2 separate regions of the Homo sapiens genome follow, and region 2 is linked to region 1. Evidence: fine-mapped expression QTL. Tissue or cell type: whole blood. Region 1 holds a variant in brackets; the other region holds the start of a gene. All regions are shown on one strand. Distances are between the middles of the regions. Region 1 overlaps HS6ST1 (heparan sulfate 6-O-sulfotransferase 1). Region 2 holds the start of HS6ST1 (heparan sulfate 6-O-sulfotransferase 1).

Region 1 (15,405 bases):
CCCAGCGTAGGGGTCGGGGAGGGGGAGCTATATTAGGGTTCTCCAGAGGGACAGAACTTATAGGATATATAGAGACAGGTGAAAGAGGATTTATTGGGGGAATAGGCTTATGCAATTAGGGAGACTAAGATGACCCGAGATCTGCCATCTGCAAGCTGGAGAACCAGGGAAGCCAGCGAGCAGGCTTAGTCCAAGGCCAAAGGCCTGAGAACCTGGGGGCTGTGGTGTTAGGTCCCAGAGCCCAAAGGCCCGAGAACCTGGAGTTCTGATGTCCAAGGGCAAGAAGATGAGTGTCCCAGCTCCAGAAGAGAGAGGAGATTCACCCTTCCTCCACCTTCCTGTTCTGTTGAGGCGTGCGGTAGATTGGAAGATCTCTGCTCACGCTGGAGAAGTCAGTCTTCTTTTCTCAATCCACCCATTCAAATGCCAATCACAGACATACCCAGAAACAAAGCTTTACCAGCAATCTTGGTGTCTTTTAACCCAGTGAAGTTGACACCTAAAAGTAGCCACCACAGTGGCCTTTGGGTGAGGACCTGGGCACCCACACTGGGCTGCAGTAGCGTTCTCCCAAGGGAGCCTCAGCCATTTATTTCTAGGCACCTCCCAGATGTCCCCTTTAGCAGGCAGCCTGGATGTCATGAAGCAGAAGGATGTTGGCCAACAGGTGGCAAGTGCCCACTTGACGGGGTTGGCCAGCCAGTGTCCCCCCACCATGTATGGAGGAGCATCTGGGCCCAGACAGGTGCGTGTGCAGGTGGGACTTTAAGCTCAGGGTTTTGCATGATTGGGTGCTAGATCTGGAAACTACGTTTTAGGTACTTCTCTTCGGTTTTGTTCTTACTGTAACAGTAATGCATGCTGATTCTAGAACTTGTTCTCAAGCACAGAGGCACTACATAGAGCTGTCCTCAGCCCTCAGGGTGGCCCCATGGGTGTTGTGCTGTTAGGGTCAGGGTCAGCCTGCTCCCAGCTCCTCTGCATGGCCCCGTGTCCCTGAGCACTTCACATGCCCTCCTGGCCCTGCCTTTACTGTCCTCTGTGATGCTGCAAAGCACCTCTTGGCTGCATGTTTGGTCTGCATCTTGGGGCATCCTTTCAGAGAACGTCGAGAGTGGAGGTGTCCTGGCTGTGTGCCTCGCCCTTGGGCATCAGGGGTGGGGCAGGCCCAGGCCCCAGAAAAGCCTGGCATTTCCTCCTGGGAATGGGCAGCAGGTCGGATGTGTGGGCCTGGCTCCTGGGGTTTAGACTGTGGGGGACCAGAGAAACATGTGGTCAGCACTTTGGAGGAACACACAGGGAGGGGTGAGGACAGGAGGGCGTTGCAGGCAGAAGATGCCGTGAGCAAGGACCTCAAGGGCAGGCCGTCGGGGGAGAAGAGGCTGGAGCAGCTGAGAGGCCAGGCCTTGCCCTGTACAGAGCAGGGAACTGGCCGGCTGTCTTCCCAAAAGAGGCCTTGGGAGGGTGGACTCAGATGGGGGCCGTTGCGGAAGAGGCCCCACCACAGAGCCGTTGGAATGGAAGACCTAGCCACAATGGGAGACCTAGCCTCAAGGGCTGGGCCTGAATCAGGAAATGCCTTGAAGCCCCGTGGTGGCAGGGGCTTGGTGGGGAGCATCCCAAGTGCAGCTTGAGGGAGTGAGGGGAGGGGAGCCAGCCACCAGGCACAGGAGTAGCAGGGGGTTTGGGAGGGAGCCACCATGTCAAGGAGCCACTCAGTCACCAGCACCTGCGTGCAGAGCTATTCCTGGGCCCCAAGAGAGGACTGGGTCCACCCTTGGGGAACCGTTAGCCCTACACCTAGAGGAGCTGCAGATGGTCACAGGGCTGGGGCTGGGAGGGAGTGGATCAGATGGGAGTGTCTTCAGCTGGATGCTTAGTGAGAGAGTCCCACACATGCACTCCCACATGTGAACACACCACGTACACATCAGTAAACATGCAGACACACATGCACGCCAGCCTTGGCTGCACAGCTCCAGCTCAGCCTGACCCATGTGTGCTGCCCATGGCATTCTTTGACCTCAAGGTCCCCAGTTTAGCAGGCGGCCAGTGAGTCATGGGGCCTGAGACCAGGTATCCTCCCCTAGTTACACCTCTCAGACTCCCTGAGGCAGCAGCGCCAGCTTGGAGCACAGCACCTGGCCAGAAGTCCCCATGCACAGCCTCCACTCTGGTCACACTGAGCAGTGACACCTACTGCCTCAGGGTGTCCTGAGGGATGGGACTGGCTTCAGGGCTCTGGCGGGAATGTCTTCTCATTGGGGCATGACTTTATCCAGGGAGAGGAGCTGGCGGCACCATGGAGAGCCCAGTCCTCTGCCTTCCCTCCCCTCAGGCCAAGCTGGAGCCTCTGAGCTGTTCCCACTAGGGAGACACCGGCCAGCATGGTGTCCCTGACTGTCTGGCAGCCGTGATGCCTGCGTGAGCCAGTGGGGCCCAGGAACACATGCTGCCCGATGTCCATGAGTGCCGGGGACCCCATGGAGGCTGGGCCCAGCGGGCAGGATCAGCTGCAGGCTTCAAACCAGCACACATGTACCCCTGAGGGTGAGAGGCTGGAGAACTCCCAGGGTTGACCAGGGGCTGACAAAGCACGCACGCTCTCCCACACACGCACGCTCACGCTCATATACACACATCCCCAGCAGTAGCTCATGCTTTGGCGCCAGTGGTGACTCAGAAACATTCTGGAACAAGAATTCCTTTTTTCCTTACAAGTGGTTGGCACTTGGGGATGTTTCTTCGTATTTGAAATTCCTTCCCACTGGTCCCTTTAAGAGCTGAGCAATTTTCCATTCTGAGCTGGGCTGCTCTTCCATCCTGAGCTCTCAGAAGTCTTTGAAATGGTCCCAGGATATTAGAGGAGATGCTTTTCCAAAGACGATCTGCTGTCATTGCAGACACAGGAAGGGTAGCCTGGAGCCACATGGCCCCTGGGAACCCCTGCCTGACACACAGGGCGCAGGAGCCATGCAGCCCCTGGGGATCTCTGCCCAACACAGAGGGGTACAGGAGCCATGCAGCCCTGCCTCACACAGAGGGGTGGCTAGAGCTACGCAGCCCCCGGGAACCCCTGCCCCTCACAGAGGAGTGGCTAGAGCCATGCAGCCCCCGGCGACCCCAGTCCCACACAGAGGGGCGGCTAGAGCTACGCAGCCCCCAGAAACCCCTGCCCCTCACAGAGGGAGGGAAGGCTGGTTTCTATAGACCATTCAGGAGGCTGTTGCTGCATGTACCCAAGCAGCCAAAAGCCCAGACTCCTCAAACTTTGTGACCCAGGGCTCCCATTCCTTTCTTTTGCCCTCCCCAGCTAATGACAATGACAGAGGCACTCATTTCTTAGGCATGTGCCATTGCACCCACCCCCACCACACACAGCACACGGTGGCGGCTCTCCCTTGAGAAAGATACTGGCGGAGGCTCAGACGGGGTGTGGGGCTAGCTGCTCTGGAGGGTGAGACACGCCCAGAGCAGCTGGGAGGAGGGTCTGCCCTAGGCATCTCATGGATTGACTGTGGGCACAGCTGGCATGGCAGGGGCCCTGGGTGTGGCCAGGTGATGCTGCCGGGCAGAAGTTGGGCCCAGTCCTGGGCATCCTCGTCCTCCACCTGCGTAACTCAAGGTGGTCCGCCCACCCTGCCCTTAGTTACAGCCTCCCCCGAAGAGATTAATTACAACAGGTGCTAGACAGACAGTCCTATGGGGGTCCCAGCTGTCCCTCCCTACTTGCTGGGAGAGGGACTGGAGCTGCTCAGCTTCAGGGCCCAAGAACCCAGAGATACCCCCGTGCACACAGCGCCCCAGGTAGACACCTCCGCGAACACACGGCCCCCTTGACGTGGCCCAGGTGCAGGGCTGGGGGCAGGCGTACTGTGGAAGCCACACCTGGTCACCAGCATGGCCCAAGGCGGCGCTGGTTTGGGAGAGGGTGGGTGGTCCCCCCCTCTTCTCCAGTGTCCCATCCCTGCCAGGGTCCAGGTAGGGATGGTAGCTGTGTCCTGGGGCTGCAGGCCCTCTCCGGAGGGCAGGCTCCGCTGTGTGGGCCTCCTGCACAGCCTCGTCCATGCCAGCTATGCCCTCAGCTTAATGCCGTGGGTTGGGGATGGGCCTGTAGTTCTGGTTGCAGGAGCTTGGAGTGTGCTTGGAACTTTGGAGAAGCCCCCCATTTTACAGAGGAAGCCGCTGGGGTCCTTGGTTTGGTGAATTCAGCAGTATAAGCAGAGTGTCACCCGGGTCCAGGCCTGACTCTCCCATGCTGCCCCAGCCTGGGCTTCACAAGACAATCTGAGTGCTGATGGGAAGCGGCTGGCAAGACCCCGGCCTGGAGGTGGGGTAGCCCTCTGCCCACCAGAGCCACCCTGCCTTGCTGGCGCTGGTGTTTGTGCTGCCACAAGCTGTGTTTCCTCCGTCTGCTCAGAGCCCAGGGGTCTGCTGCCCTCGCCAGCACCCCCAGCCTCCGCCTGGCAGATGGGCTGTGTTAGCAGGGCCGGGATGGGGGAGGGGTTATGAGCCTCTCAGCCACAGCTCCCTACCCTGTGTGCCTCTGTCTCTCCGCCAGCTGGGGTCTTTCCAGGCAGGCCTGGCCCACTGTGATTACCCTCTGTGCCCCAGCTTTCTGCCGGGGGCCTGGCACAGGTCACGCGTGGCCTTCAAAGACAGAGATCCACTGTGCTCCTCACCGGCTTGTGAGCTCTCTGCTTCAGTTTCCTCATCCACCACATGGGGCTGGGCCTCAATGTGCCTTCAGCTGCTGCTGTGGCTCTTCCTCATTGGGCCTGGAGTGTCCAGCGTAGGGGTCTGGAGGATAGGGCATGACCTGCCATCCACTCAGTTTCCCCACATGTCACACTGAGACTGGGGCCAGCAGAGCCTCAGCAGCATAATTTGCAATCTGTGTTGTGTTGACCTCTTATAGTTTGCTAAGAGTGGGCCGGCCAGGGCAGAGGGCTCGCTCCTGCTGATGGGCCTGTGTCCAAGGGTGCAGCTGTGGCCTCAGTTTGCTCCTTTGGAGGACGGGAGAGCAGAACACCACCTCCCATGCTGTTGGGGTGCGTCGGGGAGTTGTGGTGCAGAGCAAGGAGGGAGCTGTGTGCTCTCTGCTGCATGGCAGGAGGCAGGCACTTGCGAAGCCTGCTCTGTCCCTGCAAAGAACAGAAACTGGGTCCTTGGCTAGGTCACACCTCGGCCCTGGGCCACGTCCAGGTGTGTTTCTGCCCCATCTGAGGCCGATTCTGGTGCCCTTGGCCTCTGGTCCTCTCATTCCGAGAGCCGAGGAGTACCCCACACAGTCATGCAGGAGGGAGAGGGAGTGAGGGGTGGGTTAGGCCTGGGCCAGCCCCACTGGTGGGCCCAGGGTGGCCGCGCCCAGGGACGTGCTGCTTTCCCTCCTGAGAAGCTGTTGGGACTTGGCTCTTGAGGACACTCGTTGTGGGAAAGCCTTTTTTTGTTTTTTATTGTGGTGAAGTATGCATAACATAAAATTTACCATTCTAACCATTTTTGAGTGTACAGTTCAGTGGCATGAAGTACATTCACATTGTACAGTCATCACCATCATCCGTCTCCAGAACTTTTTCATCTTCCCAAACTGAGCTCTGACCCCATTAAACACGAACTCCTCATTCCCCTCCCTCCAGCCTCTCACGCCGTCCATCCTACTTCCTGACTATGAATTTGGCTACTCTAGATAGCGGATTTAAGTGGAATTATATGATACTGTCTTTTCACGACTGGCTTAGCATAATGTCTTTAAGGTTCATCCATATTTTATCCTGTGTCAGAATCGCCTTCCTTTTTAGGGCTGAGTAATACTCCATCGTCTATATGTACCATATTTTGCTCATCATCCCTTCATCTGTCAGTGGACTCTTGGCTGCTCCCTTCTTGCTATTGTGAATGATGCTGCTGGGAACATGGGTGTACAAATATCTGTTTAAGTCTCTGCTTTTAGATTGTTTGGGAATATATCTAAAAGAGGAATTGCTAGATCATATGGTAATTCTGTATCTCATTTTTTTTGAGAAACCACCATACTGCTTTCTACAGTAGCTGTACCATTTTACCTTCCCACCAGCACTGCAGAAGGGTTCCAGTTTCTCTACATCCTTGCTAACATTTCTTCCTGTTTTTTGATAATAGCCAGTCTGATGGATGTGAAGTGGAATCTCATTGTGGTATTGATTTGCATTTCCCTAATGGCTAACGATGTTCATCTTATATCTGCTTGTTGGCCATTGGTCTGTCTTCTTTGGGGAAATGTCTACTCAAATGTCGCACATTTTTTAATTGGGTTGTTAAGTTATAGGAGTTCTTTATATATTCTGGATATTAATCTCTTATCAGATATATGATTTACAAATATTTTCTTCCATTCTGTGGGTTGCGTTTCACTCTGTTGATACTATCCTTTGATGCACAAATATTTTCAATTTTTTGTTTTGTTTTGTTTTTGAAACAGAGTTTCACTCTTGTTGCCCAGGCTGTAGTGCAATGGTGTCATCTCGGCTCACCGCAACCTCTGCTTCCCAGGTTCAAGCGATTCTCGTGCCTCAGCCTCCTGAGTCGCTGGGATTACAGGCATGTGCCACCACGCCCAGCTAATTTCTGTATTTTTAGTAGAGACGGGGTTTCTCCATGTTGGTCAGGCTGGTCTCGAACTCCTGACCTCATGATCAGGTGGATCACCCACCTCGGCCTCCCAAAGTGCTAGAATTATAGGCATAAGCCACCATGCCCAGCCTAAATGTTTTTAATTTTGATGAAGCCCAATTAATCTAGCTTTTCTTTTGTTACCTGTGTTTGGATGTCATATTCAAGAGATCATTGCCAAATCTAGTATCATAAAGCTTTTTTCCTGTGTTCTAAGAGTTGACAGTTTTAGGTCTTACCATTGGTCATTAATCCATTTTGAGTTAATTTCTATGTATAATGTTAGATAAGGGTCCAATTTCCTTCTTTTACATGTGGAAATCCAGTTTCCCCAGCACCATTTGTTGAAAAGAGTGTGTTTTCCCCATTGAATGGTCTTGGCACCATTTGACCATATATGCAAGGGTTGATTTCTGGGCTCTTTATCGTATTCCATTGGTCTATATGCCTATCTTTATGACAGTACCACACTGATTTGACTACCATAGCTTTGTAGTTAAGTTTTGAAATCAGGAAATGGGAGTCCAACTTTGTTTTGTATTTGTTTTGGTTTGGGGTTTTTTTTGTTTGTTTTTGAGACAGGGTCTCGCTTTGTCATCCAGGCTAAGGTGCAGTGATGTGAACCTGGCTCACTGCAGCCTTAACCTCCCAGGCTCAAACAATCCTCCCTCATTGGCCTCCCAAAGTGCTGGGATTACAGACATGAGCCATTCTTTTTTGTCAAGTACTTTAGCTATTCAAAATCCCTTGAAATTTCATATGAATTTTAGGTTAAGTTACTCTATTTATGCAGCAAATACTGTTGGGGTTGTGATAGGGATTTCATTAAATCTGTAGATTACATGAGTAGTATTTACATCTTAATGATAGTAGGTCTTTCAGTTCATGGACATGGGATGATTTTCCATTTACTGGGGTTGTCTTTAATTTCTTTCATCAGTGTTTTGTAGTTTTTAGTTTACAAGTATTTCACTTCATTGGTTAAGTCTCCTCCTAAATATTTTACACTTTCTGATGCCAACAAAAACATAATTGTTTTGTTAATTTCCTTCTTGTATTGTTTGTTGCTAGTGAATAGAAATACAACTGATTTCTTTTAATTTTTACTTTAACAACATTGTTAAGTTAGTTTATTAGCTCTAACAGGTTTTTGTGTGTGGAAGTGGATTCTTTAGCATTATCTACATATAAGATTATGTCATCTGAGAAGAGAGATAACTTTCCTTTTTTCTTTCCAATCTGAATACCTTTTACTTATTTTTCTTACCTGATTGCTCAGGCTAGAACTTCCGGTACTCTGATGAATAGCTGTGGCAAAAGTAGACATCTTTGCCTTGTTCCCAAAGTAGAGGAAAGCTTTTGGTGTTTCACCATTGAATATGATGTTAACTGTGAGTTTTTCATATCTGGCTGTCTTAGCTCAGCCTCTATTACAAACACTATAGCCTGGGTGGCTCAAGCAGCAAGTGTTTATTTCTCACAGTTCTTGAGACCCAAGTCCCAGATGAAGGAGCCAGCAGATGTGGAACTGGTGAGGGCTTGTTGCCTGTCTTGTATCCCCTGCATCTCCCATGGCCAAGAGAGAAGAAATCATCTCTCATGTCTTCTCTTATGAAGCCACTGGTCCCATTCATTATGGCTCCACCCTCATGACCTAATTACCTCTCAGAGTCGCCACCTCCAAATGCCATCACGTTGGAGATTAGGACTTCAACATGAGTTTTGGTGGAACACACACATTCAGTCCATAGCAATGGCCTTTATTACACTGAGGTAGTTTCCTTCTGGTTCTAGTTTGTTGAAAGTTTTTATTATGCAGGTGCATTGAATTTTGTCAAATGATGTTTCTGCATCAGTTGAGATGATCATGTGTTTTTTTCCTTCATTCTGTTAATGTGGCATACTACATTGATTTTCATATTTTGAACCATCCTTTCATTCTAGGGATAAATCTCACTTGGTCATGATACATAATCATTTTTATATGCTGTTCAATTCAATTTGCAAGTATTTTGCTGAGGATATTTTCATCAGTATTTATAAAGGACATCAGTGTGTAATTTTCTTGTTATATCTTTGTCTGGCTTTGATATCAGGATAATACTGACCTCATAGAATGAGTTAGGAAGTATTCTTTTCACTTCAGATTTTTGGAAAAGTTTGGGAAAGATTTGTGTTAGTCCCAGGAGAGCCTCTCAGGTCCCAGCATGTGCTGGGAGCCTAGTCACAAGCCCTGGCAGTCAAGGGTGTGGACACCCAGGCAGCTGCCTAGCTGTGTGGCCCTGAGCAAGGGCCTTCACCTCACTGTGCCTGACTCCTCAACTATAAACGGAGAGGAGTGGTACCCCCTGCCCTGAAGTGGAGAGAAGAATGGTACCCATTGCCCTGGAGTGAGGAGAGAACCAAATGAGCCAGTATGGGTGTGCCCAGCACAGGGGAGGCAGCAAGGATGCTGCCTGTGCCATCAGCCGGCAACATCTCACGGTGTTCACAGTAGCCCTTCAGGACAGAGGGACCCAGGGCTCAGAGGGCACTGGATCTGCGCATGGTCACTCAGTTGCTGGTTCCTCACTGGGCACATCCAGACCCCTCTGCCTTCAGACTCCTGCATTTCTGCCTTGCCACACAGGAAAACCAAGAGGGGGAGGTGGTTTGGAGTAGGTCATGGGGCCCACTGAGCCTTGGGTATCCTGGCAACTGCTTCTTATTTTCCTTGTTCCTTGGAGCCTCTCTGGGGGTGCTAGGGCTGTGTCCATGGAGAATCAGCACAAATGTGCCTGAAGGAAGGAGTTTCAGGAAGCAGGAGGCTCCAGGGCCTGCCCACCCAGGCTGACACCCCTGTACCTTGTGGGCCACAGTCAGGAAATCCCAGAGCCTGGGTGTGGGAGGGTGGTCCGAAGACCTCTTTTGTCTCCCCCTCCACACACACACACACACACACACACACACACACACACACACACACGCCTCCCTTCTTTGCGGTGGAGCCTCTTTACTGCCCAGTAGCCCACCTTCTTCTCCCAGCTCTCCAGGCCCCAGAGCACTTGTCCTCAGAGGGGCCGCAGCTCCCAGGTGGGAGTGTGACAGCGTCTCCATCCTACCTGGGCCACCAACCTATTGAAACTGGTGTCATCTTAAGGACAGCCAGCGCCTCTTGACTCTGACAGGCTGCCCCAGGGTGAACAAGTTTCTAAAGGTGGCAAGTCCCACCTACCCAGTAGACAGGCTGAGAACAAAGGAAGACCCAAGCACTAGCAAGGAGAGCCCTCCCCTCCCTCGGGGACTGCGGCACTTCATGGGCAGGGCCCGGGGCCCTCCATCACAGCCCACCCCGCCCTGTGCCCCCTCTGATGCAGTAGAGTCAGTGAATTGTCACTAGCCTGGTGCAGGCCATCCAGAGCACAGTGCCAGGGCCGGGCACAGGGCGTGTATGACAGAAGAGCCATGTGGGGTCTCAGGAGGAGGCTGTCAAGTCCAGGCTCAGAAGCTGTGATGTGAAGGACAGTGCTTCATGGAGTTTGGGGCAGGTTTCCAGCAGAGGGTCTGGGCCAGCAGGGCAGGTGCAGAGAGGAGAGGGCAGGGCCCTGCCCTCAAGGAGGTACAGAGCCAAGCCTACTGGCTTCGGGACCCACATGGTGCCCCTGTGTCCCTGCAGCGTGGTCTCAGCATGGACCCCCAACCTGTGGTGAAACCATTGCCCTGGGATGTTCAGCAGGACTGGGTCAGCTTCTGCCTGGCTCAGCATGGCCATTCCACACTTAGAGGCTGACCACAGGACTAACTGGATCCTATGTGGCCACAGACCCTGCTCACATAGCACTGGCCTTCTGAGCTGGTGGTTAATCCAACCTTCCTCATCCCCCAGAGGACCCCCAAAACAGGTGCTTGGTATAAATGTAACTCGCCTTCCTTCACTGGTGACCTGAGGCCACCTGATGGTCTCTCTTTGCCCTCTGTCCCCGTGGGCCCCAAAGAATCTGGGAGCATGTTCCTCCTCTGACTCCGGGCCCTCCAGGCCATACCAGCCCCTGGTTTTGCTAAACATCCCCCAAAGCTGTGGCCCCGGGAAGCGCCCCTCGGACCATGGTCTGCTGCTGCTCTCCTTCCAACTTCGAAGGTCCCCTCCCGTCCTGGGGTATGAGGAACAGTGGTTTCTGGGAAATCTGGAGCCACCCCAGTGTTTGCAAGGAAAGTGCCCAGCAGGTGGTGGCAGCCGCCACAGTTACTCCTCAGACTAGCTTTACTCATGGCTTTAGGGAGTGACGGTCATGCTTCATTCCAGGCCTCAAAGCCTTAGCCATTCCCAGGCCTTGCTCTGCCCAGGCCCAGGCTGGCCCTTGGGCAGGCTTATGGGGAGCCAGGCCAGAAGAGGAGAAAAGCGCCATATTGTGTGACATGCCCCTGGCTCAGAGCGGGCTGTGCCTGGGAGCGGTGCCCTTCCGCAGGAGACAGGGTGTGCGGGTGGGACGCTGGAGTGCCTGGCTGGTTTGGGCCCCACTGCATGCAGAGCAAGGCCCAGCCTTTGGGGAGGGAGGCCTGGTGTGGCGGAGCAGAGCAGGGACCAGCTCCACCAGGCCCATGGGTGGAACCACACAGGCTGTGGGCAGCGGGGGGCTGCAGCCACGGCAAGGACCCCAGACCCAGGGTGGTCTCCAGGGCTCTTTTGCAGTAGGAGTGGCAACAGAGTTGGGGAGGCTGACAAGTGGGAGGCCTGCCTAGGCTCTCCCCGACCGCTGCCTTCCCCCACACCCCATGTCTCAGGTGCCCTCCTGTGAGTCGAGCCGTCTTTTCCAGCAGGAGCCCGTCAGCTGATAGCACCCCTGCCTGCCCTTCCTGCTGCCCTTGTTCCTCTGCCC[G/A]CCCCCATGGCCTTGTGAGTCACCGCCCCTCCCCTCCGCCCCATTCCCCCCGTGCCATTTGCCCTGGCCTGCTGCACACTGAATGCCCTGAATCTGGAGCCACTGCACAGGGCACTGCCCTCCCGGCTTCCCACAGCCCTTGCTGGGCTGTCCCTGCCCACTCACATGCCCACATGCCACAGCCTCCCCGTGAGCCTGGCCGCCCTCCCTGAGGCAGGGGTGGGCCCACCACCACCCTCCACATCCTCGCCGGGATGCCTGGCTGGTTCCTTCCAGCTTCTGGGAAGCAAGGTCCCAGAGCGCCGGGGTGAGGAGCACAGTCTTCTCCAGTACGTGTCTCGCCCCGGGTTGTTCTGTGTCCAGACTGGTGTGGGCGTCCCTGCCCTGAGAAGGTGTTGGGTGGGTAGCTGGGCGTGGAACACAGGGCCCACCTTACCTCCTCAGGAGCCCAGCCACAGTTAAAGCCGCTCCAAGCCAGGGTCCTGCCAGGCGTGGGCCCTATGGAAGGATACACATGGTGTGAGCAGGCCCAGACTGCCTGGCATGGACCCTCTGGGGATCCCTCTCCCCACACCTTCACCAGGTGGTCTCTGTGGCACTGAGAGGGCCTAGAGCTGGGCAGGGCCAGGAATCCCTGGCACTCTTGCTGGGCCCAGCCCCCCCGGCCTCAGTTCACCCTCCTCACTGTTGCCCTGTGCCGCCTCCCCTGCCGGCTCCATCCAGGCCCCTCTCCTGGCATCCAGGGGCCTTCTCCTGAGCCGGACCCTTCCCCACACAGCCACCCTAGGATGGAGGAGCTTGGCAGGGTCTCCCCTGGCGTTGAGAAGAGTGTGCATTCAGAGGAGCCTGTCAGCCCTGAGCAGGGAGGGTGTTGGACGGAAGGAATGGAGGGCAAGAAGCACCTATAGGGAAGCCTGTGTATGCCCTTGGGGAAGAGCCTGTGGACAGATGCCCGCCGGCGCCCCTGCACAGCTGTTAGCCACATCCTTGCTGGGTTGCCTCCGTGAGGTCTGTCCAGGGCCTCCCCGTGGAAAGAGGAGGGGCCAAGTGATGGAAAGCAGCAGGACTGGTATGAGGCAACAAGAGCCCCAGGCTGGAGAGGCCAGGCCAGGTGAGGCACACAGCCTGTGCCCTGGCTCCCTTGAGGTCCACCTTGCCCCAGGCATGGCGTCAGCCTGTGGAGGACCCAGGTCCTGCAGCCAGGGGCTCTCCCTCAGGCCCTGGTGAGCTCATTTAGAAGCCAGCTGCTCCCGCTGACGCACCTTCTGAGCTCACCCAGTGCCTGGGGCCCTCCCTGCCAGAGGTCTAGCCCCCAAGAGACACAGTGAGGATCCAGACTGAGGAGGCTAATGCTTCCTTCTGCTGCTCCAGTGCCATGGCCGCCCCAAACCTCCAGGACTCACACCTCACTGAGCGCAAACCCACAGCCTTAACTATGGGGTGCTCTGGACCCAGGGCAAGGGCAGTGGGCAAGAAAAGTAGCCCTCCCCCATGCCGGGACTCCGGCTGTCTGAGAGGGTGTGTGAAGCCCCCAGCCTAGTAATGCCTGCACGGGGTACTCACTAAAGACAAGAAGGACAGGCAAGGGGACTCTACTGGGACAGTTAGGTCCCTAGTTCCTCCTTGTTTTATTGTGTCAGCTGAGATCCCCAGTACATGCAGAATTGCCTTAGAGAGAGTGGACATCTTTGTCTTATTCATGATCTTAGAGGGAATGCATCTGACTCTTCCCCATGGGGACCATGCTTGCTCTAGGTTTTGGGGATACTTTATCAAATTAAGGAACTTTTTTTTTTAATTTGAGACAGTTTCACTCTTTTGCCCAGGCTGGAGTGCTATGACACGATCTCCGCTCACTGCAACCTCCACTTCCTGGGTTCAAGTGATTCTTACGCCTCAGCCTCTTTATAGGTGCGTGCCATCATGCATGCTAAATTTTTTTTTTTTTTTTTTTTTTTTTTTTGTATTTTTAGTAGAGACGGTGTTTCGCCATGTTGGCAAGGCTGGTCTTGAACTCCTGACCTCAAGTCATCCACCTGCCTCAGCCTCCCAAAGTGCTGGGATTACAAGTGTGAGCTACCACGCCTGGCCAAATTAAGGGACTTCTATTCCTAGTTTCCTGAGAGTTTTTATTATGAATAGTGTTTTTAGCAGATGCTTCTTACACATTTACTGAGCTCTGTAGTCTGTTGCTGTGATGAGTCACATGTATGGATTTTCTCCTGTTAAGCCATCCTTGCATACCTGGGGTTACTAAGTATGGTCGTAGTGTAATATCTTTTATATGCTCAATTGGGTTGGATTTGATAAGATTTTTGTTGAGGAATTTTTGTATCTATATTTGAACTCTGAGCTTAGCAGATGTGTCCACCAGGCTGCAATTTTCCTCTCTTGTGCATTTGTCCAACTTCGGTATTAGGATTATGTTGGCCTCATAGAATGAATTGGGAGTGTCCACTGCTTTACTCTTGTCTAGGAGGGTTTGCTTACAAAAATCTGGTTCTTTTAAAATTTGGTAGAAATAGCCCAGCACTTTCTTTGTAGGAATTTTACCCCTAACTTTTTATCTTGAAAAATGTCAAACTTACAAAGTCGTTGAAATGGTAGTAAAGTGAACCTCATACCTTTCACCGAGACCCACTGCTTGTTAACATTTTGCAATATTTGTGCTTGTGAGTGGGTGCTCTCACTTGCTGTTTACATATATGTATATCTGTAGATACATGTGTACTTACATGTATATTTATATATGTAGTTATATACATGCTTTTGCATTTTAGTAGAATCATTTGAATGTAAGCTGCAGGCATTTCCTCAATATTTTAGGAAGATTTTAAACTACTGCTTTGATTTTTGCTTTTTGAGATTATCGGGCTATTTGTGACTTATATTTGGACATTTTATACAAATAATTTGACTGACAGCTATCCTCTCTCTATCTCTTACATGTTCTCCTGGTGCCTCTGGCCTGTGGTTGGTGAAAGCAGGTAGGTCTGTTCCGGCAGCTTCCTCTCTTTCCCTGCCAGCTGGGGTGGGCCCATCCTCATGCCGAGCGTCATGCTGTGACCTCCAGGAGGCATATTGTCTTGTTTTGTGCAAGGAGGAAACAGATGACAGATGCATTCCTTGGGGAACTCGTCAGGGCCACACAGCTGCTGGATGGCAGATCCCTTAGCAAGCTGGAGACCTGTTTTCTGGTGCTGCCAATGGCGCGCCGGGTTCTCCTGGGAGCTTCGTGCTGCTCATCTCAGGGACCGTGCACGTGGGTGAGCAGCAGACATGCCTTGTGGCCTATGAAGTCAGACACCTCTGGTATCTGGGAGACTTTGGCTGCAGAAGGATCTCTGAGTCTCCATTTGCCCATCTGCAGGGGGATCTAATAGTGGCGACCGTACCGGGGTTGCAGGAATAAAATGAGCAAATGCCTGCTGGGCCCTAACCTTTTTTGGAGGCACCAACCACAGAAGTGCTTGATGGGGGGCCATAAAATGGCTGGTTCTGGAGAGTCAGCATTCCCGAGTCCCCAGGGTCACTGCTCAGGTGACAGCTTTCTCAGTGCATCACCCGGAGCTGTCGCCCTCCTTGTAAGTAGAGCCAGGGCCATGGGAGTATAGAGTTGGATACTGCAGTTAGCTTGGGCACAGAATGGCTTATCTCTGGGGTGGGCTGTTTAGGCTCTGAATTTCCCTGTCTGGGGAAGAATAGTCTACATTCAAGAGCATGCAAGGCCATCTCTCCGCGGCCGCCTCTGTGTTTATATGGACTCGGGGGTTGAGGGAGCAGGTGTCAGCCCCTCTTCGCTGCAGAGAGGCTCTGTGGGGTCGTGGGTGAGAACCAGGACTTTGCCTCGGACCCTGACATGAGTTGCTGTGGGGTCAGCAGGAGGTGGAGCCTGGAG
Region 2 (15,405 bases), 24 kb before region 1:
TCTATGCTGTAAGGGGGTGAGGCGGCACTGCCATTTACTGCTTATGGGAGGCCAAACTTGAACCATCCTGGAAAGGAGCTTGGCACTAAGAATTAAGGCTCTTCAAATGATTCCTCCCCCCAGCCCCCATTTGGTCCAGCAAATGCTCCTTTAATAAAGTATCCAAAAAAGCCTGAAATGCAGACAACAATTTGTGCATAAGAGTGTTCCTTACAGCATTCTTTTAAATGAGAAAAAAATGAACAATCAGAAACAAAAAAGTGAAATACCAAAGAAGTGTAAAGGCCCAACACTAAGGAAACAGTGAAGTAAATTATGGTATGTCCAAAATTGGAAATATTGAGTAGTCAAATATTATGTTTATGAAGTTATTCTTAGCAATTTACGAAAATGCTTGGGATAAAATATTAAGCGAAATAAAGCAAGATTCAACACCATGCATGTGGTGTGCTCTCAACTGCTACATGAACATGCAAAAGAAAAAAGACCAGAAAGAAATAAAAACATCATTAGGAGTTCATTCTAAATAATTAAAGTATAGATGAATGGCATTTTTTCCTTACAACAGTTTTCTACTTCCCTACAGTTTAAATGTTTTCCAGAGTTGATAATTACAAAAAAAAAAAATCCACCTGTTAAAAATTTCAGAAACTGAATACGCTTCAGCTTGCTATTCCACTCTGCCCCAGCCCAGGCCCAGGTGCTACAGTGGGAAATGGGTGCATCTGAAGGGGGCGGGTGACGTGGCTGCAGGGCAGGAATAAAACGGCCACTCTCCTCCCCTGAGCCTAGCTCCTGGAAGGAGGCTTGCCCACTAGCTCCTACAGATTCCAGCCCAGCATAGAGCCAGGCCCAAGCCACCACCCCTGTTCCAGGGACAGGTGGGCAGGTGGAATGGGTGTTCTCAGCCCTAGCTCCATGTCACAATCACTCACAAGCATTTCAAACTTGGTGCCCAGGCCCCCTACAAGAGGCCCCCTACAGACTCTGGCTGGCCCTGGAGCCAGCATTTCAAAGTTATCCATCTGATTCTCTTTGCCCAGGGCCTAGCCCTGCTGGGGAAGTAAAATCCTGGTAAAAGGGGCACAAAAACCAGAGGGCTAGAGATGGCGGAGGATGGTCGGAGGGTGCTTGGACTGGGCCTGTGCCACTTGCCTGAACCTGGGAGCAGGACTGCCCCTCTCATTGGCAGTCCCAGCCAGGGCAGCAAGCCAGACCAGGCCCCACAGGCCAAGGCTGGGAGGCGCAGGCCAGCACTGGGCTGCAGTCACAGGGAGTCTCGGGCGAACAGAGCAGGTGCCTGGACAGGACTGCTCTTCCATCATTCATACCCACCTTTGATGAGTACTGATCAGACGGCAGGTGGGCAGGGCCCACACGGTGCACCCTGTAGGCCTCACAGGGCCAGGAGACTGGCACCGTGATGCCCACTCCCTCCAGACGCAGATGTACTTTTCTTTCTTTCTTTTTTTTTTTTTTGAGACAGAGTTTCACTCTTGTTGCCCAGGCTGGAGTGCAATGGCGCAATCTCGGCTCACCACAACCTCCACCTCCCGGGTTCAAGCGATTCTCCTGCCTCAGCCTCCCAAGTAGCTGAGATTACAGGCATGTGCCACCATGCCCAGCTGATTTTGCATTTTTAGTAGAGACGGGGTTTCTCTATGTTGGTCAGGCTGGTCTCAAACTCCCAACCTCAGGTAATCCGCCCGCCTCGGCCTCCCAAAGTGCTGGGATTACAGGCGGGAGCCACTGCACCTGGTCAGATGTGCTTTTCTTCACGTTAAACTTTTTATTATAACTGTGGGTTTGCACGCAGTTGAGTTCCTTCACCAGTCTCCCCCAGTGGCAAGTGGCTAACATCCTGTGGAAATACAGCACAGTATTTCAAGCAGGCTATAACACGGGGACAGCAGCAACCTTGTTCAGATTTCCCCAGTTCTGCCTGCTCTCATTGGTGTGTGTGTGTTCAGTTCTGTACAACTTGATCACATTGTTTGAAATATGTGAATACACCCATCTCATTTGCATCTCCTGGTCCTGCCACCTCCCTCTTCTGCAGGAGGCATCTTTTTGCCTCAGGCGGCCTGGACTCTCAAGAATGAAAACTCGGCTTTAGAATTCCAAAACCAGGCTTTCTGAGTTTGCACCTGGCCCACGGGCTTGAAAGGCAGACTTTGTTGAGATGAGGATTTTGTAAATCTTTTATCTCTTAATATTTCAAGATAGGAGTAGATGTCCTGGAATACAGAGGTGTCTGTGAGGGGCTCTGTCTGCCCTTAGGAGCCTCTGGGTATAGGCTGCTCTGCAGGGCAGGCCCAGCAGGATAGACACGGTGGAGCAGAGGGGCTGAGTTTGTCCTTCCTGGGTTTCTCTGTGGCAGAAATAGAGCCCAGAGGCTTCTTATGCCTCAAATGGGGATGCAGAGCTTGACTGAGGTATGGGCAGGGGCAGGCTGGCCCCCCCATGGCCCACCGGGGCTGGGCTTTTCCCATGACAGCCAGGTCTGGGGGTTGTGGTAAGGCCCAGAGTCCTGCCAGCTGCAGGCCTGGTGCCTGTGCCCATGGCACGCCAAGCAGGCTCCATCAGCCTCCCTAGCTGGACAGTGGCCAGCTCACACCGGGGCCAGCCGCTGCCTATGAACCTCGCCCTTTGCTCTTGCTTTGGGGCCCTCTGGGACTCCCAAAGAATTCAGATCTCGGAAGACCACACATTCTCTTGGGGTGTGTGAGTAGGGACCAAGCAGCCTTGAGACAGGGCCCGAGGGTGACCTGAAGCTAGAAAGCAGAGGGCAGCACTAGCAGGGAAAGCCTGTGTTGTCCTGGGTTGGCTTTTGGTGCTCCGCTGGAGAGGGCAGGCTGCAGCAGGGACAGGCACGTGCTGCCAGCCGTGGAAGCCGGAGACTCCGGGTAAGGGCAGGAATTGGCTCACTGTGCTACCCTCTCTACTTCTGTGTGAATTTAAACTCTTCGTAAACAAAAGTCAAGAAATCAAATAGAGCCTAACAATTATTGGATCAGACTGGGATTACAGGATGGAAGTAATACAGGTTTTCTCTGCCACACAGTGGGATGGGCTCTCAAGAAGATGGGAGCAGATAAAAAGAAAAAGCTATGATTGAGTTCTGGTCTGGACAAGGAGGTATAGACCCATTTCTCCAGCTCCCCTCTTCTAAGCTCAGCTACAAACCCTGGAAATGGCACCAGAGATAGAGTCAAAGGAGGGCGTGGAAAGATGGAAGAGGAAGGTAAGCGCGTCAAGACCCTAGGACAGGAGGAACAGCCCAGCAGCAGGGCACCTTACAACCCCACCCGGCAGGAGGACGTGGTCCAGGCCGGGCTGGGGGCTGGGGGCTAGGCTCTGCCCAGGAGCCCAGGACTTGGGTTTCTCCAAGGGCTGGGAGTCGGGAAATGGGAAGGTGGAGAGGACCCTCAACCAAGGCTCTCACCAGGGAGGGGACACTGTCCCCTTGGCCAAGTCACTATCCTCTGCTCAGCCTCAGCTCCCTGACCTGAGAAATGAGGGAATTATGCCCATAGGGCAGCCGAGAGCACTGAATACAATCATGCACAGAGGAGGCCAGCGCACAGGAGGGCCTGGCACACAGGAGAAGCCGAGTAGCTGGTTTTGAATATGCGGATGCTGATAGGGTGCTTCCCACAAATCGACAGTAGGAATACCTAGCCCTTGGCGTAGACAGGGCTGTGGAATAAGCGTTTGCTTGCTTATTGCTTACCATGACCCTATGAAGTAGGTCCCATTATTATCCTCACTTTACAGATGAGGAAACCAAGGCTCAGAGAGGTTAAGTAACTTGGTGAAGGCCACACAGCTGGTTAGACAGAGCTGGGGTGTGAACATAGCACCTTTACTCCTAATGATAATGTTTAACTTTGTTTTCCTACAACTGAGGCTGAGACCTTCCTCCTTGGCCCCCAGCCCAGGTGGTCCCTCCAGGGACCAGCCTGAGGGTAGGAGGAGTGTCCCAACCCCAGTCACCCAAAAGCCAAAGTCAAGGGCAAAACACGTACCAGGAGGCCCTCACCCGGCCCAAGGCTGGTCAAGACTGCATGGCAGTCACGACGGTATAGACGTGGGTGGCATTGGTGTGGACTCCCTTCTCCAGCCCCCTTACCTGAGGGGTGCCTCTCCCAGCCTCGCGGCCTCAGCTGAGCACCCACTGGCTCTGTGACCTTGGCAAGTGGCCTCATGTCCCTGGGGCTCAGCCTCCCCATCTGTAAGGAGAGGCCCACAGAGCTGCTGTTGGATTATAAGAGATGTGACTGACAAGGGCTCAGCACGCAGACCTTGCCCATAGGGTGATTATTGTTGTCAAAGACACAGCCTGAGGCCCTGGGTGGAGCACAGCCTCCAGCCCAGCAGGTGTGAGCCATACCCCATCCCGTCTGCTGACAGAAATGTGCCTCCCTCTTTTCTGCTGGCCTGAACAGCACCACAGCACTTGTCACCAGCCCAGGCCTTCAGCCAGGTGGACGACCTGGTGTACCACACACCCATGGTGTGACCCTGTCCCTGGATGCTCTGAGAATAGAGGAGATGCTGTTGCTGCCCCATAGGCCCTGGGCCCAGAGAAGGACGCAGACTCCTCCCACCAGGAGCCAAGGTTACCCTCCCCCAACCCTGAGTGTCTAATTCCCACGAACTCTCCTTCTTAAAGGAGGGCAGGGAGAGAAACGAACAGCAAGAACCATAGCTATTTGGTGCAAAAAGAAACGTGGTCACTGAGAGATTCCAGGAAGTGTCAAGGCCAGCCAGGTTTACCGCTGCCGTGCTGAGCCCTGGCCTAGGGACAGGTGAGCCCCCTCCCCACAGTGCCACAGGGGCGGGCAGGGCCTGCTCCATAAAGCCATCATTGTGTCCCACCTCTGTGCCCCCACCCAGGGCCCGGGTCCCACCAAGGCCCTGGGGCCCTGCCCAAGAAGAAGCTTCCATCAGAACAGTCAACTGACTTGTCAAGCCAACTGTAATCTAGCAAGAGGGCGACTCTTTAATAGCAGTGGCGATGAATGGAGGTAAAAAGAGCAGGACCTGGTGACGAGGAGCATGGGGGCCGGCCATCATCCTCCAGGAAGGGCACTGGCACCAAGTGAATTCCACAGACAGAGGGGTGGCCAGTCCAGCCAGCAGAGAGTGGAGCAGAGTGGGAGCTGGTCCCGAGCCCCAACGATCAGGCAAGGCTGCCTGGAGGGCACTGACCATGCCCTTCTAGGCATCAGGGCCCAGGACTGAGGCCACCTTCTTCCACCTGTGCCCCGGCCCCTGGTGGCTTAGGCAGCTGGGGTGGGAGCAGCAAGCACCCCATGGTTGAGTGACTTTTCTCGGACTAGAACATTTCACCCTCAAAAGAGCCGCCATCCACCCCACCCCACCCCCAGGGAACATCCCCAACAGTGGAGCTTGTCAAGCTGCTCAGTGCCCTCTCTGGTGGCTCCCCCGACCCGGCCGAGTCGGAACCCCTCTGGGCAGTGAATGACAGCCATCTGGGAGGAGACCCACTGGCCACCGGAAGCTGCGAGCAGTCACCCCCCACCCCATCCAGGCTGTGATCCCGCCTCCACCCTAGTCGTCTAAAGACATGTCCCTTGGGAAGTTTCAAGCAGAAGAACCAGGACGATGCCCTTGGGGCAACGTTACCAGGTCCCTGTCCTGCCTCCCAAGCTGGCAGAACCCGCCAGGCCTGCCCACAGTCCCGCTGCCCGGGGAGGAGGGTGGGCTCCACTGGACAGACTCCGAATCCCGGCCAGGCAGCAGTCCAAGCCCCCCACTTGCCAACAACCCCACGTCACACGCGAGGGCAGGGGGCCAGCCAGGGGGAGGTCACCGAGCCAGCAGGGCGGGGGGGGCGGGCAAGGGCCGGGGAAGCCCAGGACCACGCTGCCCCTACGAATTGCTCAGGTTCTCCTCTTCTGTTTATCCTACCCTCTTCCCCTAAGGACTGAAGCGGGCCTGGAGGGCCTAGAGAAAGGGCACAAAGAACAGCGAGGCCCTGGGCGGGCGTGGAGGGAGGGGAATGGCCCTTCCGAAGCCCCGGGCCTCTTCCAGCGCGGTCCTCGAACCGAACCGCAGGACCCCTGCTGTCCCCGGGCAGCGGCCGGAGCGCGTCCCTCGGGTCCTGGGAAGACCTGCCGCGTCTGCGGGCTGCCTGGGAGCCCAGGCGCCCCGCGGTGCTGGGGGAGGAGCCCGGCACGGGGCCGCTGGGCGGCAAAGGGGCCGCGGGCTCCCTGGAGGAGGCGGCTGCGGACGGGGCCTGGCGACCTCGGAGAAGGTGGCGTCCACGGCGCGCAGCCCGGCGCCCCAAGCCTGCCGCCGGGTCGGGGTCGGGGCCGGGGCCGGGCCCCGCGGGTCCGCGCGAGCCGGAGTCCCCTCTAAAAGTTTGTCCCCAAACGAAACCCCTCTCTCTGCCCCGCGTGGGCAGCGGGGCCAGCCCCACGGGAGGCTCTGAGGACAGACACGACTGCCCTCCTCCACCCCTTGGCAAACAACAATGGGCGGCCGCCGGACGAACGACGAGGGAAGCGAGTGTGGAAAATCCCCCAATTTTTTGCAAAGTCAACCGCGGGCGCTCGGGGGCCGGGCCGCGTGCTGCCCCCGCGCGGCCGTCCGCGGGACTGTGCGCCGGGAGGGGGCGCCGCTGTTGATCTCGTGGTTCTCAGACTCTGAGACCGCACGGTGGGCCGGGAATGAGGCTTCATTCCTGAAGCCGAATGTTAATGCCTCTTCTGGGATCATCACAGCCTGCCACTAAGCCGTGTTCTTTTACTTTTCTTTGCCATTAAGTCAGAGATCACGCATTAAAGAATTGGTGAAGTGGATCTTCAGGGGACAAAGCCACTGAGCAGAAGAGCTGCCAGTGCTTTTCCTTGGACCCCACAAGCAGTCAGGGCCAGAAGCTGCCCCTAGCAAACACTTAGCTCATATGCACTCTCGGGGCTGGGGCAAACCTTGGCCACGCAGGAGATCACCCAGGGAAGAAAGGAAACAGCGCGCAGAGCGCGCCTCCTGAGACCCTGGCTGTGTCCGCTGACCTCCTGGAACCCCACGCCAGCCCCAGACTGTGCGTTTCTATCCATTTTCCAAGACATGACACTGAGGACTCATCGCGGGGAGTAGCGGGAAGTGGTGGGGAGTAGCGTGATGCAAGCTGCCCCGCCAACGAGGGCTCGAGCTGCCTTCCACTCGGCTCAAGTGTCCACTGATTGATGGGTGGCTCATCTGACTTGACTTTCAGAGCCCAGAAACTCACCTACAGCCTTAGGGTCTCAGGTGCCTGTGCAGGGCTTCAATCAAAGTGGAAGACTGAGCAAAGTCCTGTAGCCAGCCAGGCAGATTTCCCTCCTCTTAAAAGAATTCTAGAAAGAAAGGGCTTCCTGGCTAATGTGAGTGCTTCCCATCAGCCAGTGTGGCAGGTATGAAGTTGGATTAAATAGCTTGTTCTGGGAGATGTTGCTCCATGGGTCAGGCTGCTCTGGCTCCCATTCAAGGGTGGGACCTTATCACAGGCACTTCGTCCCTGCCTGGGCCTCAGTTTCCCCCTTGGGACAGTGAGATCATCACAGGGTGGAGCCATGGCCCAAGTACCGATGGCTTCGTTGGCCTTCGGAGCTGCTCCAGCTTTCCCTTGAACACTCTGGGCCCACGTTCCCCCTTGGTGGCAGTGACGGTCACCAGGCTCTCAGGAGTGGCCCCTGTAGACGCTCTCATCCCTGGCCTAGGGAGCTGGGGCAAGTGCAGAGGTGGGGAAGGGGAGGGTTCTGGGGCTCACAGCAGGAATCAGGATCCCAGCTCTGCTGACTCTCATGGGGTGAGAGTGGTTGACCTTGGAACCAGGGTCTTAACCCCTTTGAACCTCAGTTTTCTCTTCTGTAAATGGATATCACAGCCTACCCCCGCAGATTTGCTGATGGAATTGGAAATGACACCTCTACAATGCCTGGCACCCAGCAGGTCTCCAAAAGAGCAGCCTTAATTATGATGTAGCACGAGGATCCTTATCTGGGTAAGGACATCTGGGGGGTGGACCCGGGGCAGCTGTGCTCCCCTAGGCCACACAGGAAGGCTCCCCAGGGCTCAGGCACAGACTGCGTCAAGGGGCTGCAGGCAGGTCCAAGCACACTGCAGGGCGGCCCCACCTGTGTCCCATGGGGACTGCACCCCCACTCCTATAGGAATGAGTCACTTCTGGAGAAGCTTGTCCAAGCTGCCCCCAGGACCCTCGGGCCAGGGACAGTTTTAAAGCAGCCTACAAGATGAGCAGGGGCTTTGGGGCCCTAGGTCCCACTGAGGACCCCACACCATGGACTCCAGGGTGCGCTGGGCTGTGTTGAGGGTTCTGCACCCGCCTGTCCACAGCGGATATTCTTGCGGTCCCTTTGGAAAATGCATGCCGCCCGCTCAGCTGGGTTTGGGGTGTTGGTTTTTCCAGCTCTCTGGGTTTGCTTCCAGGAGGGCTTTCTGGTGTGATGTTGTCTACGTTTAACAGCTTTACTGAGGCATAATTGACACCCCATGATCGCTTCCGGTCCCTAACAGAACGGAAGGCAGGGCACCACCCCGCCTCCCCCCCCACCCCGTCCCCGGCAGGGCTTGACGTGGACACTGGGAGCCCACGCCTGGCAGCCAGACTCGCTCCCAGAGCCCTCGCTGGCCTGAACCAACACACTAGGGCCCACCGCGGCCGGCCCTGCAGCTGTGAGATCCTGGCAGGTCCCAGCCCCACTCCTGCGCTTCCGACGGGCTGCAGCCTCCGAGTACTGCCAGAGCCCAAGCAGTGTGAGTGGGCACCTGGCGGGACCCCCCGCCCCACGAATGCCGCGCGTGCTTGCCAGGCTGGGCGGCGGCGAGTGAGGAGCCCGCACCACCCGGCCCACACACGAGCCAACGTGGAGCGAGCCCTCCGCAGCCAGGTTGGGCCCGGGCCGCTGGACTCTCCAACCAACCCACGAAAGACAGAATATTTGGTGGGCACTCACGATTCTTAAGAATTGGCTCAATGTTTTATAACTCTTTCATTGGAGTATAATAAACATGGATGGGGGAAAATGCACCTCGTCTGATATTCTTTTCAAACAAGGAGGAAGCCATAAAGCCGCTCCGCAGGCCTCTGCAGACAGCCCAACATCTCTTCAATGCGGGGCTGCGGGGCACTGTCCCAAAGCCAGCCGCAGGGGTGAGGGGGTCGAGCAGGAAAGGAAAGCCTCGCTTTCCCTCTCGGTCCTGGTGGTGGGCGGCCCCCGCCGCCCTGGTCCCTGGAAGTGCAGCCCAGTAGGCTAGCGTCTAACTTCAGCGCCCCAGCGTGCAAGGTCAAGGCCTTTCCTCCCGCGCGGGCTGCGGGGACGTGGGCGGCTGGGACTTGGGGAGGAGGGGGTACGGACCCAGGCTCCAGAAGCGCCAGCCGCCGCGCCCCCTCACCGCGGCCCCCGCCAGGAGAGCCTCCCACGCCTCGGCTCCGCACTGCCGGTTGGTCCCCCACTCCCCTGAGGGCGGAATCACTTCCCAGTCGCTGGCTGCCCGCCTGCTAGCGGCCTCGCCACCGCAGCAGACCCAGGTCCCGCGCCCAGCACCCGCGGCGAACCCCGGCACTCCGGAGGCGGGGCCGAGGATCGGCGCGGGCGGCGACGGCAAGAGACGCCACGGGGGCGGGCCAGGGGCGGACCGGGGCGGGGCGGCGGCGGCGGACTGCGGAGACGCGGCGGCGCGCGGGGCGGCGCAGAGCGTTCTCGGCGCGGAGTGGAGCGGAGCGGGCTGGTGCTGGGGGCGCGGAGAGCGCTGTGCTGGCCGGGGCCGGGAGCGGGGCCGAGCGGGAGCGGAGTCGGGCGTCGGGCCCGGGGAGCCGGGGCCGGGCGGGGAGCAGCCATGGCACCGCGGAGGGTCGGGGCCCGCGCCGCTGCGGGCGGCCTGGGCGCCGAGTAGCCGGGCCGGGCCGGAGCGCGGGCGGCGGCGGAGGCAGCTGCGCCCGCGCCTCCTGCCCTCCCAGGCCCCGCGCCCCGCGCCCGGGCCCCGGCGATGGTGACACATGCGGCGGCGGCGCGCCGGCGGCAGGACCATGGTTGAGCGCGCCAGCAAGTTCGTGCTGGTGGTGGCGGGCTCGGTGTGCTTCATGCTCATCTTGTACCAGTACGCGGGCCCAGGACTGAGCCTGGGCGCGCCCGGCGGCCGCGCGCCGCCCGACGACCTGGACCTGTTCCCCACACCCGACCCCCACTACGAGAAGAAGTACTACTTCCCGGTCCGCGAGCTGGAGCGCTCGCTGCGCTTCGACATGAAGGGCGACGACGTGATCGTCTTCCTGCACATCCAGAAGACGGGCGGCACCACCTTCGGCCGCCACCTCGTGCAGAACGTACGCCTCGAGGTGCCGTGCGACTGCCGGCCCGGCCAGAAGAAGTGCACCTGCTACCGGCCCAACCGCCGCGAGACTTGGCTCTTCTCCCGCTTCTCCACCGGCTGGAGCTGCGGGCTGCACGCCGACTGGACCGAGCTCACCAACTGCGTGCCCGGCGTGCTGGACCGCCGCGACTCCGCCGCGCTGCGCACGCCCAGGTGAGCGCCCGGGCGGCGGGATCCTCGCGCAGCTGCGCCCCCGAGGCCGGGCCGTATGCCCGCCGTGCTGTACTGGGTCGGCCCTGCCTTCCCTACCCCCTTCTGCCCTCTTGGGGGCCCCCACTCGCCGGCACCCCTCCCGACCTGCCGAGCGCCCGAGGCTCCCAGCTCCTCTGGGTGAGCCGGCTGTCACCGCGCTTTCTGACCTCGCTCTCACTCTCTTCCTTGCCTTGTGCTGCCCTACTGCCGGCTTGACTGCGCAGCGCCCGGGTTTTCTCCAGGGTCCCCGCCCGCTGCCCTCGGGCCACCTTACCTGCTGTGCGCCGTGAGGTCTGGCCCGCCGGACTTGGGGACGCGGGCTTCTGGGTGTGTGCGTGGCCTACCTGGAGTGTTGGCTTCCCCGTGCCGCTTCGGTGCTGTGGTCCCAAAAGTGGAAGTGAGAGTAGTGAGGTGCCGCCCCTGTGCCTGGAGTGCCTGCCTTCAGAGGGTGGGGGAGCTGCCAGGGAAGGGGGCTGGCTCTGCCCGCCTGCCTGCCGGTGTGTGCAGGTAGAACAAAGGCCCTGTTGACCTGGGGCTGGGGGCGGGGAGGAGGCAGTACCGCCTGTCCTCCCAGTGGGGCCTGCCAGCCGAATTCTTCCAGGCACAGGCTTGCCTGGAGAGAGGAACAAAAGCCACCCGATGGGGGACCACCTTCCCCAGGAAGCTACCAGCCAGGTTGGGGGTAGTTGAGCTGGTCCAGGGAACCTGTGCTGCCACACCCCTTCTCTGGGGTCCCCCAGCCCCATGTCAGAGCTGAGCTGCGTGAGGACACAGAGCATGGGAGGGGTGCCGGGGCAGCTCTTCTGGGAAGCCGTTTGTAGGGGAACCTGGGGTGCTGCTGGGTTTCCAGCAGTTAAAGTTGGGGTTATTTTCCTCCTGTTCCTGTTGGTGCCCATTCGTCCTGCAGGGATGCCCTGCGGGGCCTTTCTCCCCAAAGTCTGGGCTGGGAAGGGCCAGGAGCAGGGCTTCTTGTCTGCCTTTTGTTTCTCTTCCAAATTTGCCTTAGGACTGAATTTGCAGACAGGCTGGTGGTAGGAGGCTGGGCGGTTGTAGGCGTGTTGGCTGGCACTCTTGGGTCCAGAGGCTGTAGGCTCTCAGGTGTGCCTGGGGAGCCTGGAAGGTCCAGCCAGCCTGGAGCTGAGCAGAGTCCGAGACACTGCTCCCCTGCACAGACCTCAATCCTTGCTCTGTGGTCTTTCTCAGGCTGTCAGGAAATTGGGGTCCTAGAGTTGGAGGGGCATCTTCCCACTTTTCTTTCTCCCCCCTCCCCCAACTGTACACACACACACCCACACACACACACACACTGCAGCTCCCAGCCTGGGAGGTGATGTTCTGAGCCTCTTACAGCCACATTCTACACTTGGCGGTCACAGAGCTGCCTGTCTAGGGCCCCTGAAGGATTGCTTCCGGCCCAGCACTTAGTCTGCTCTGCACAGATGCACGTTCCTGCTGCAGGGCCCCCCTAACCCTGGTCCAGCTTCTCTGTGCTAGGCTCAGCTGTGCCTGGGACCACAGCCATGCCCCCACCCACCCTTCCACCAGTCAGAGCAGTAGGCTCCCAGAGTTGGTCACTGACCAATACCAACAGACGCCTCCCTACCTGTGGGGGGTGCAAGGATGGGGGTCACCCCCTTTGCCAGAGGGACTTAGCTCGGCAGCCTAAGAGGATTGCGTGGAAGCTTCGGGCCGCCAAGAAGCCGGAGCTTTTGAAACAAGCCTGCTCAGCAGAGGCCACCTCAGCCCTAGATTGCAACCAGGATGCTCTTCCTGCAGCCCCGCACGCCTGTGGGTCCCCAGGGTGAAGAGCCTTGGCCTCCTTTCTCTGGAGTTTGTCCATGAGAGTGGGAGGACCAGGTGGGGCCGATGGGGCCCCAGGTGCTACACCAGGAAGGCCCGGCTCCCCCTGCCCAGGGAGCATGTGTGGAGCAAGAATGGAAAACGCAGATGCCTCTGGCGGAGGTGGGCTGCCAGCCTGGAAATTGCTAGCTCAGCAGCATGCGCCAGGGTTGGGAGGGGCTTCCAGGGCCGTCAGGAGGCCCCCTCTGCCACCCACTCTGGAAGTGGGTTGTGCTACCGGGCAGGTGACAGCACCCCACCCTCCGAGTCCCTCTTCTCCGCCTCCACTCCCTTCAGTTCTGTTGCAGGCACTAGGTAGATTGCTTTTTTAATGAGCTTCATCAGGAGGCCAAGGTAATCTTGCCTTTGTGCTCGCAGGGCCAAGCTGCACTGAGGTCCACCTGCTGAGCGCTGCCCCGCCACCTGAGTCTTCTGGCCCAGGCTGGAGCTGGGCTAAGCTGCTCTGCTGTGGCGGTTGGGATGCACTTCCCCCATCTGCCCAGGGACCCAGCAACTCTCTATCAGGGGCAGTGCCCATCCCTGCTGGGGTGCCTCATGTTAAGTGGGCTTGGTGTCAGGAGACTCAGGTGTCACCCTGGCCCTCCTGCGATGTCTTCACTCTGGCTCTGCACTGCCATCTCCGTGTTCTCTGGGGACTGAGACCCTCTTTTCCTTCTATCTCTGCCTGCCTCCCTGCCCAAGGCTGGCTCCTGGAACCTCTCCACCAAGCCCCTCCCATTCCCTGCTGCGGTTTGGGAGGGTCTCAGTGGGCCTGTGGTGCGCGTAAGAGAGGTGGGGCTCTTCCCGGCTGCCAGCCTCCCCATTGCACAGTATCAGCCTGGGCTGCTCTGAGCTGGGCATCCATGGAGATGGACAGGTTTTTGATGTCTTCCTGGAATATGGTTTGGAACTTCTAGTGGCTGTTAGTGCTTGGCTGCCTTGGTAGAAAGGAACAAGAGTGAGCAGAGCATTGGCGGGTCCCTGTTTAGTCCTGTGTTCACCATGGGGGCTGCCTCATCTGCCGACATCAGCCAGGGTGCTTGTAAGACTCCACTGGAAGGACGTTTGCTGGCTGGCCTTAAAGAGGTGTGGCCATCCCCAGGCAGCAGCCAAATGGCCAGCCATTCCAGGGACCACTCGGTTAGAATGTCTCAGCACCCCACACTCCGCTGTCACTCAGAGGGTCCAGATGGTGCTCCAGAGCCAGAACCTCCCTCCTTCCTCTTCCCGTCTGCCTGAAGGCAACGCAAGAACAGGCATGGTCAAGGTCTTGCCCGGGCCACCCTGGAAATGTCCCTGAAATCATGTGGGCTTCATTTGGGGCCACGGAGGGCATCTGGAGCCCAAGTGTGGCATCTGGGCCACCTTGGCCGGGAACCCGGGACCAGCTCACATCCTCTCTGCACCAGGGCCTCTCTGGAGCCCTTAGTGGGCTCGCAGCCTCTGTGACGTTGCCCTGCAGAGACCAGTGCTTCCTTGCTGGAGGGATGGCGCAGGAGCCCGCAGCCTCGCCTTTGACCTGCCCTCCGTGATCCTGAAGCCTTCTCAGACTCCAGAAATCCGCCTGGTGCTGGACCTGTGTGCCGTCCACCTGGTGTGCCTGCTCTCCTCTCCCACTTTTCTGCCTGCTCCTCCCCTCCCTTCAGTCTGCTCAGATGCCCCTTCCTCCAGGAAATCTTCCCTGGCTTTCTGTTCCTAGGCTCCCCTGTTGCCTTAGGCGCCTCGACTGCTGTCCCATCTGACACCGTGCCACCTTGGCACTGCCCTCATGCTGGCACCATGGGAATTTTTTTTTCCTGGACTCTGCAGGATCTGGGCTCTGTCCCTGCCCTTTCCCTGTGACTCAGGTTCACGGAGTCAGTCTTGAGTGTCATGGTGTTCCCTGAGAACCTGGGGACTCCTTGGTGGGGCAGACCAGGTAGGGGTGGGCTTGGATGAGAGCCTTCGTTTCTGTGGCATGCGACAGTTTCCACCTTACCTTCATAATCGCTTTCTTCTTTGAGATCAAGGGAGAAACCCTCATCTGCTGTGATGGGGACAGATGTTACCCAGAGCATGTGACTGGGGCCAATGAACAGGACCTGGGGACCAGGCTGGGGGTGTCACTGTGCCTACATTGCCTAGAGAGGCCTTTGGTTAAGATGAGAAGGGAATCTGTGGTCAAGATGCTCCTAGATTTTCACTAAAAATAGATAAAAAATCCTTTTTTTTTTTTTTTAAGCAAACACATGATAAGGCAAACTTACGAATGGTTGGGTGACAGGATCGTTTTAGATGGTCCTCTAGCTTGGGGGATCATTTCTGCCATGCTGCTCTGGTGGTCTTCAAGCCACAGCTTCCTGTCCTAGGCACTTCACGCATAAAACTGGGGCCTGGGGACTCCTGCTCCTGGATCAGAGAGCCCAGTCCCAGAGAGTGCAGTGCCCACCTTGGTCCCTAGGGCCAGGGAATCCAGGTTTCTTTCTCAGCAGGAGTTCTGGCTGCCACACGGGGGAGTGGCCACCTTGGGTCTGGCATCCTCCAGGGCCCAGGAGGGAGGAGGAGAAGGGGCCTGGTCTTGTCGTCCTTCGGGGAGTTGGAGGCTTTTGCTCTCACACCCCGCTTTGTTGTGGTTATAATGATTGTTTGGTAGATGAGTGGGAGGAAAGTATGAGGCAGAGGGAGAAAAGGAAAATCATCCATTCCCCATGCATGGTTTTTCCACTGTAATTGAAGCCATCATATAAATTTCACCATAAATGTTGTCTGTTGTCATTAAAAACTTAATATTTGAGTGGCTGCAGCTGCTCCGCTCTGAGTGTGCCACCGCTGGTTGGCAGTGGGTGAGTGCGCAGGTTGCTCATTCTGTACTCTGTGGGGACTGCTGCAGGACTGCTCCTTGTGTGTAAATGTTCTGCATAGCTCTGATTTCCTCTGGAGATTCCTAGGAGTGGAATTTCTGAGTTGAATAGTCTGAATGTCTTTACTGCT

The links. PIP is the estimated chance that this variant, and not a neighbour inherited with it, causes the effect.
Region 2: HS6ST1 starts here. The variant in region 1 is fine-mapped to the expression of HS6ST1 in whole blood (TOPMed, PIP 0.99).

The regions. Positions count from the first base shown.
Region 1 is chr2:128,288,883-128,304,287 of GRCh38, reverse strand. All of the region lies in intron 1 of HS6ST1 (heparan sulfate 6-O-sulfotransferase 1), which reads left to right. Among named protein-coding and RNA genes, the nearest start is that of HS6ST1, 22 kb to the left of the region's middle. RefSeq lists enhancers at 937-1,016, 2,551-3,149, 3,150-3,747, 3,748-4,346, 8,618-9,167. The variant G/A (reference allele first, on the strand shown) is at 11,508.
Region 2 is chr2:128,313,189-128,328,593 of GRCh38, reverse strand. HS6ST1 (heparan sulfate 6-O-sulfotransferase 1) reads left to right here and starts at 9,726. Exons shown (of 2, transcript NM_004807.3): 1 at 9,726-10,557. The coding sequence starts at 10,031. RefSeq lists enhancers at 4,759-5,691, 11,719-11,868 and silencers at 6,158-6,367, 6,408-6,727, 9,384-9,793, 10,488-10,717.